Linked DNA regions of Homo sapiens. The protein of the gene in region 2 purifies or fractionates together with the protein of the main gene of each other region. This does not show direct contact. Each region holds a gene or a part of one and is shown on either strand. Other genes may lie near its edges.

Region 1 (3,653 bases), on a different chromosome or scaffold from region 2:
AAGGTGGGAGAGATGCAGGCTTTGGCTAGGTGCTAAGCTGCTGTAGCCGGTTGAATGTAGAGGTCACTATCTTTTCCGAATACCTGTAAGTAAATTAAATCATTCTCTACTCCCATGTGCCTGCCAACCTAATGGGAAATCGCTATAGAAAAGATGGTTTAAATTTTAGTCTTTGAAGTGGTTTATGCACGTTTCCGGAATCAAGATTTAATGCAGAGTTGGATTGGATATTGAATATTTTTGATTTGTCTGCTTTTCTCTCCATAGAAAGCTTATAGCTTCATTGCACCATGTGTGGCATTTGGGCGCTGTTTGGCAGTGATGATTGCCTTTCTGTTCAGTGTCTGAGTGCTATGAAGATTGCACACAGAGGTCCAGATGCATTCCGTTTTGAGAATGTCAATGGATACACCAACTGCTGCTTTGGATTTCACCGGTTGGCGGTAGTTGACCCGCTGTTTGGAATGCAGCCAATTCGAGTGAAGAAATATCCGTATTTGTGGCTCTGTTACAATGGTGAAATCTACAACCATAAGAAGGTGAGGAGAAAGAAACCAGATGTCTGGATGCGATTAAACTTCAGAGTTTGTTGGTTACGATGATGTTACATATTCTGTATCATGCTTTTTCCTTTGCAAAGCACTCTATGTTCGTTATCTCATTTGCTCTAAGTATGTAAATAGGGAACTGATGAATAAAAAGGTGAGTGAAATGACTTGGTCACAAAAAAAGTGATAAAAATGGGGATTACAGTTCAGTTTCATTGACTCTTAGAATTTTTTCTCCTTCTCCCCAGCTTTTCATTTTGAAAAAATTCCTAACATACAGTAAAGAACAGAACAACAAGCACCTAGATTAAATAGTCATTAATGTTTTGCCATAGTTGCTTGATTTTTCTTTCTACACACACACACACACACACACACATGTTTTTGCTGAATCATTTGAGAGTACAGTGCAGATATTATGACACTCCTAAATATATAAGCATTTATCTCCTAAGAATAAGGACATTCTTCTACATAACATCAATGCCATTATTAAACCTAAGAGTCCATAATACCACCTAATATCCAGTTAATACTTAAATGAAATTTCCCTAAGTGTCCCAAGAATATTTTTATTTATTTATTTATTTTGAGACAGAGTCTCATTCTGTCACCCAGGCTGGAGTGCAGTGGTGCGATCTCGGCTTACTGCAACCTCTGCCTCCCAGGTTCAAGCAATTCTCCTGCCTCAGCCTCCCAAGTAGCTGGGACTACAGGCACCTGCCACCATGCCCAGCTAATTTTTTGTATTTTAGTAAAGACAGGGTTTCACCATGTTGCCCAGGGTGGTCTGGAACTCCTGAGCTCAGGTAATCTGCCCACCTTGACCTCTCAAAGTGCTACCAAGAATATCTTTATAGCTGGTTCTTGTTTGTTTTGAGCCAGATTTCATTCAAGGTTCATGCATTTGGTTGGTATGTTTCTTGGTATTTTTTGAGACTTCTTGATAGATACCTGTCAGGCATTGATAGAGATTTACATCCTAATCACATTTTGGACATTTTTATCTGTGAACAATAGCTTTTGTCATTGTTTGTTGCCTGCTCATAGGAAGACTCTTAATAATAGTCTTCTCATTTAAAAAGTTTTAAAATAGTTATTCAGGAAATTCCTTTTACACATTTCTTTATTCCTTTATTAAGGGTCTACTATGCACCAGACATCATTTTTCTAGGTGATTGGAGATGAAATGGTGAAAAGGAAAGGCAAGAATGGAATTTCCTGCTAGTGGGAGGTAGAAGAAGAGAGTATTAAAAATTTTTTCTAAGTCAAATAATGTCATATACATGAGAACGCTAGGTGGTATTATGGCATTATCAGCTTGGCTTTCCCCTTAAATGAAATAGGAAGTGCCCTGTTTCACTTGAACAGTGTTATTTCTTTTATTAAAAAGTTACAAGAAGTTAAATATTTTGAAAATAATTAATTTCTATTCTAAATTAGCCAAATGTTATATTTGTAAAAGTAGAGAAGTTTGTTCCATTGCTTCTACCAAGCATCTAAGTTTATGTAGTTGGGGCAGCTAGCAGTCTGTCTAATGAGCAGAATGTATACTTTAGGCTTATATAAAGTATTCAGAAATCCCCCCCACACCTCCTTTTTGGTAAAAATAAAGTTTACCACTACAATAAAATACAGCCAGAGGTGTACTGGGAGTAGAAGGAGACTGAATGAAAGAAAGGAGGAATGGGGTAAAGGCTGGGGCAAAGAGCAGGCCCTCTCCCTGCAGGGGAGTATCAGGGCCTGCAGCCAAGTCAAATGACAGCATGACGTCAGGAGGCAAGATTTGAGGGCTTTTATTTAAGGTGCAGCATTGGAGTTTGGTTTTAGGAGAGTAGGAAGTAATACATCCGTTACCCAAAGGACCCTTCTCCTTTTTAAATAAGTTACCTGCAAAGTTTAGGCCAAAGAGGTGGGTAAGGTAGATTTGGGAAGCTGTTGCTTACTAATATCACCGAATGCTTTATGGTCACTAACCCTTCAGGCAGTTCAGCCCAGAAGAGTCAGCAGAAGACTGTTTACAGGCCCCCACCTGCTAGTTACAGATCATCCCTGATAGAGCAGAGAGGGGTGACCAGGTAGTGACTTTGTAGTCACTGGAGGCAAAGCCCATTTTTGGACAGTTCAGTGAGGACTTATAGACAAAAGATTCACAAATTATGGAGTGAGTTGGATGGAGTGTGAAGCATATTTATGGGTCATGCACATACATAATAGGTTTACTTTTTGAAATTTGAAAGCATGTTTTAAGCTTATCTAGGATTTCCACCTGATTTAAACCTCTTCTTTCTCTAATGTCAGCCAAAAACCCGAGTACAAAGAAGAAAGAGGAATACATCAAGGACTTTTCATCCTCATAGTTTGCCATTAATGGCTCATAGTTTGCCGTTGATGGTGGAGAGTGTCAGAATTGGGGAGTAGCCTAATCAAACCTTCTTACTCTGCATGCAGTGGCAGACAGTCCCTTTGCTGTTCTTTTGGGGAATGCAGACTAATAAAGCGCCACCGTCATTTTATCTATCAGTAAGGAGTAGCTTTAATGCTGCTGCAGTGGTGGAAGCACTGGGCATTGTCATCCACCCCTGGGGACCAGCAGCTTTGTTTTGGATCATGTATCTGTTATTGTGATGGAGCCATTTATTTTTCAGGGAATGATGCCAAATGATGTTTGTCCCTTTGCTTTACATTTTTATAGCTAGGACTTTGAAGCTGAACTGGAGGAACTTCTTAGCCAATACTATCTTCTCAAATCAAAAGTTTATAGTTGCAAAAGACACGTTTTTTAGTGTCATGGCAACCAGGCAACCTATTATCTTAACTTAAATTTAGAGGTTGAGCATCCCTAATCTGAAAATCTGAAATTTGAAATGCTCCAAAATCTGAAACTTTTTGAGCACTGACATGACATTACATGTGCATTTTGATGTCACAGTCAAAATGCAGGTGTAAAACACGCAGTTTATTTGGCGTTCCCTAGGGAAAAAAGACCCTCTCAGCCCGCTTCAGCTGCAGTATAACTTTTCTACACATGCCCGGATTTCCCCATGCAAGCACGCCCACAAAGGGTAATAGAATGGCACATGTTCAAGCTGGATACGCCATTGG
Region 2 (3,653 bases):
TTCAGAGACCCCACCTCCTGTGGCCCAGGTACAGTTTGGATGACTCCACTCCCTTGAACCACAACCCAACGGACAGCCCGGGGTTCAAGACCTAGCCTTTTTTATGAGATGGAGTCTTGCTGTGTCACCCAGGCTGGAGTGCAGTGGTGCCATCTCAGCTCACTACAACCTCTGCCTCCCAGGTTCAAGGGATCCTCCCACCTCAGCCTCCCCAGTAGCTGGGATTACAGGTGTGTGCCACCACGCCTGGCTAATTTTTGTATTTTTTGGTAGAGATGGTGTTTCTCTGTGTTGGCCAGGCTGGTCCTGACCTCAAGTGATCCACCTGCCTTGGCCTCCCAAAGTGTTGGGATTACAGGCGTGAGCCACCGCGCCTGGCCCACCCTTATCCTTCACAGCCATGTGACCCATATCAGGTGGGTGACATGATGCTTCTGAAACCCCATTCCCTCCACTGGGAAATGGGGACCATGATTTCTGCCTCACTGGGGCAGGGGAGGCTGGTCCAGGGATGACATGGGGCCGACTGTTACTGCAGAAGGGGCTAACAGGGGCATCCCAAGTGGGGTCACCACCCACACTGTGCCCCTGCCCTCCCACAGCCGAAGCCTGAGGCCCCTCATCCGGGGCTGGAGACCACCTTGCAGGAGAGGCTGGCGCTCTATCAGACAGCAATTGAAAGCGCCAGACAAGCTGGAGACAGCGCCAAGATGCGGCGCTACGATCGGGGGCTTAAAGTAAGTGGGCAGAGGGCAGGGTACAGGGACCCCCCGCCAACCCCGATGCCCTGCACCAAGCTCTTGGCTTCTCCCAAACCAATACTCACGCCTTATCTTAGACACTGGAAAACCTGCTCGCCTCCATCCGTAAGGGCAATGCCATTGACGAAGCGGACATCCCGCCGCCAGTGGCCATAGGAAAAGGCCCGGCGTCCACGCCTACCTACAGCCCTGCACCCACCCAGCCGGCCCCTAGAATCGCGTCAGCCCCAGAGCCCAGGGTCACCCTGGAGGGACCTTCTGCCACCGCCCCAGCCTCATCTCCAGGCTTGGCTAAGCCCCAGATGCCCCCAGGTAGGTGATGGGCAGGGCCGGGCTGATATGGGATCCGAGTGGGCCATCTGGCAGGATGCTGCTCTAGGGGGGTGCCGGCTGTGCACTGATTGTGAGATATTTTCAACACCCTGAGTCCTGGGGTCTTCAAGCCCCTGGAGTTCATGAATACCTCCCAAGCAGGACATGGATACCCAGAGAGTTTTTTTTGTTGTTATTATGATATTATGATAAAATATAGATCACATTTGCCATTAAAAATTATTTTAGTTCTTTTTTTTGAGATGGAGTTTCGTTCTTGTTGCCCAGGCTGGAGCGCAGTGGCACGATCTCAGCTCATTACAACCTCCACCTCCCAAGTTCAAGCGATTCTCCTGCCTCAGCCTCCCAAGTAGCTGGGATTACAGGCATATGCCACACTTGGCTAATTTTGTATTTTGAGTAGAGATGGGGTTTCACCTTGTTGGCCAGGCTGGTCTTGAATTCCTGACCTCAGGTGATCCACCCACTTCGGCCTCCCAATTTGCTGGGATTACAGGCATGAGCCACTGTGCCCGGCTTTTTTTAATTCTTTGAGACAGGGTCTTACTCCATCACCCAGGCTGGAGTGCAGTGATGTGATCATAGCTCAGTGTAGCCTCAACCTCCTGGGCTCAAGGGATCTTCCCTCACCTTCACCAGTAGCTGGGACTACAGGCATGCACCACACACTTGGCTAATTTTTTTTTTTTTTTTGAGTCGGAGTCTCGCTCTGTCACCCAGGCTGGAGTGCAGTGGTGCGATCTCGGCTCACTGCAACCTTTGCCTCCTGGGTTCAAGCAATTCTCCTGCCTCAGCCTCCTGAGTAGCTGGCATTACAGGTGCATGCCACCACACCTGGCTAATTTTTTGTATTTTTAGTAGAGACGGGGTTTCACTGTGTTAGCCAGGATGGTCTCGATCTCCTGACCTTGTGATCTGCCTGCCTCGGCCTCCCAAAGTGTTAGGATTACAAGCATGAGCCACCACGCCAGGCCTCATCGCCTTTTTTTTTTTTTTGAAACAGAGTCTCACTCTATTGCCCAGGCTGGAGTGCAGTAGCATGATCCTAGTTCACTGCAACCTGCCTCCCAGGCTCAAGCAATCCTCCCGCCTCAGCCTCCTGAGTAGCTGGGATTACAGGCATATGCCACCGTGCCCCATGCCCAGCTAATTTTTGTACTTTTTGTAGAGGTGCCATGTTGCCCAAGCTAGAACATATCTTCTAAGAGGTTTTTCTTCCTAACCTCCCCCTAGGAAAGGAAGGCCTCCCTCCCTCTCTTTGTGATATGAACACGGGGCTTTGCCCCAGGTCCAAACACTTCCCTGGCAGGAAGCAAAGAGACAACTCAAAATACTGGCATGGGTTTGAGAAAGCAAACACTGGGTCACTAAATCCTTCTGCAACCAAGCTAGTTTCCAAGCCATTGTTTTTGACAAAGTTCAAGGATTACTGGAATTGTCACCTGAAATTGTCAACTGAAACGACCAAAAATTTTTCACAATGGAAGTTTGGCATAAAACTTGTCAGGAGTTCAAAGAATACAAAGACATCACAGTAACAAAATTCTGTGTCTTCCAATCTATTTGTTAATGTGAAGTAGGTTTCTCAATACTTTAATTTTTTTGAGACGGAGTCTCGCTCTTGTTTCCAGGCTGGAGTGCGATGGCGTGATCTCGGCTCACTGCAACCTCCGCCTCCCAGGTTCAAGTGATTCACCTGCCTCAGCTTCTCGAGTAGCTGGGATTACAAGCGCCCACCACCAAGCCCGGCTAATTTTTGTATTTTTAGTAGAGACGGGGTTTCACCATGTTGCTGCCCAGGCTGGTCTCGAACTCCTGACCTCAGGTGATCCGCCTGCTCCGCCTCCCAAAGTGCGGGGATTACAGGCGTGAGCCACCACCCCTGGCCTCAACACTTTAAAAAAGAAAAAAAGTGCAGATGTAGTGGCTCATGCCTGTAATCCCAGCACTCTGGGAGGCCAGGAGTTCAAGAGCAGTCTAGGCAACATAGCAAGAACCCATCTCTACATAAAAATTAAGAAATTAGCCGGGTGTGGTAGTGCATGCCTTTAGTCCCAGCTCCTCGAGAAGCTGAGGTGGGAGGTTCGCTTGAGTCCAGGAGTTCAAGGCTGCAGTGAGCCGTGATCGTGCCACTCCAAGTCTGGGCAACAGAGCAAGATCTTATCTCTAAAAAAAGAAAAAACAGAAGAGGATTGAATGGGAGAAACGAGTTGATTGTTAGGGATTGGACCCAGCTCCAATTATGTCAGCAAGAGGTACATTTCTGGTAGAATTTTGCTCTTGGTGTACCAAAACTATCAAATAGCTCAGCAGGGGCTGGGCGTGGTGGTTCACACCTGTAATCCCAGCACTTTGGGACACCAAAGCGGGCGGATCACTTGAGGCCAGGAGTTCAAGACCAGCCCTGGCCAACATGGTGAGACCTCATCTCTACTAAAAATACAAAAATTAGCTGGGCGTGGTGGTGCATGCTGGTAGTCCCAGCCACTCGGGTGGATGAGGCAAGAGAATCACTTGAACCCAGAAGGCAGGGGTTGCAGTGAGCCACGATCACACCAC

Evidence for each region. Proteins that work in one complex are often made in the same cells at the same time.
Region 1: the proteins of CC2D1A (region 2) and ASNS purify together in Homo sapiens (affinity purification with mass spectrometry, with the first as the bait; one large-scale study listed by BioGRID). This does not show direct contact.

What each region holds. Positions count from the first base shown.
Region 1 is NC_000007.14:97,865,794-97,869,446, reverse strand, and holds part of ASNS (asparagine synthetase [glutamine-hydrolyzing]), read left to right. Parts: intron 1-267; 5' UTR 268-290; coding exon 291-539; intron 540-3,653.
Region 2 is NC_000019.10:13,912,566-13,916,218, forward strand, and holds part of CC2D1A (coiled-coil and C2 domain-containing protein 1A), read left to right. Parts: coding exon 1-28; intron 29-602; coding exon 603-737; intron 738-838; coding exon 839-1,073; intron 1,074-3,653. UniProt on the Homo sapiens protein: Transcription factor that binds specifically to the DRE (dual repressor element) and represses HTR1A gene transcription in neuronal cells. The combination of calcium and ATP specifically inactivates the binding with FRE.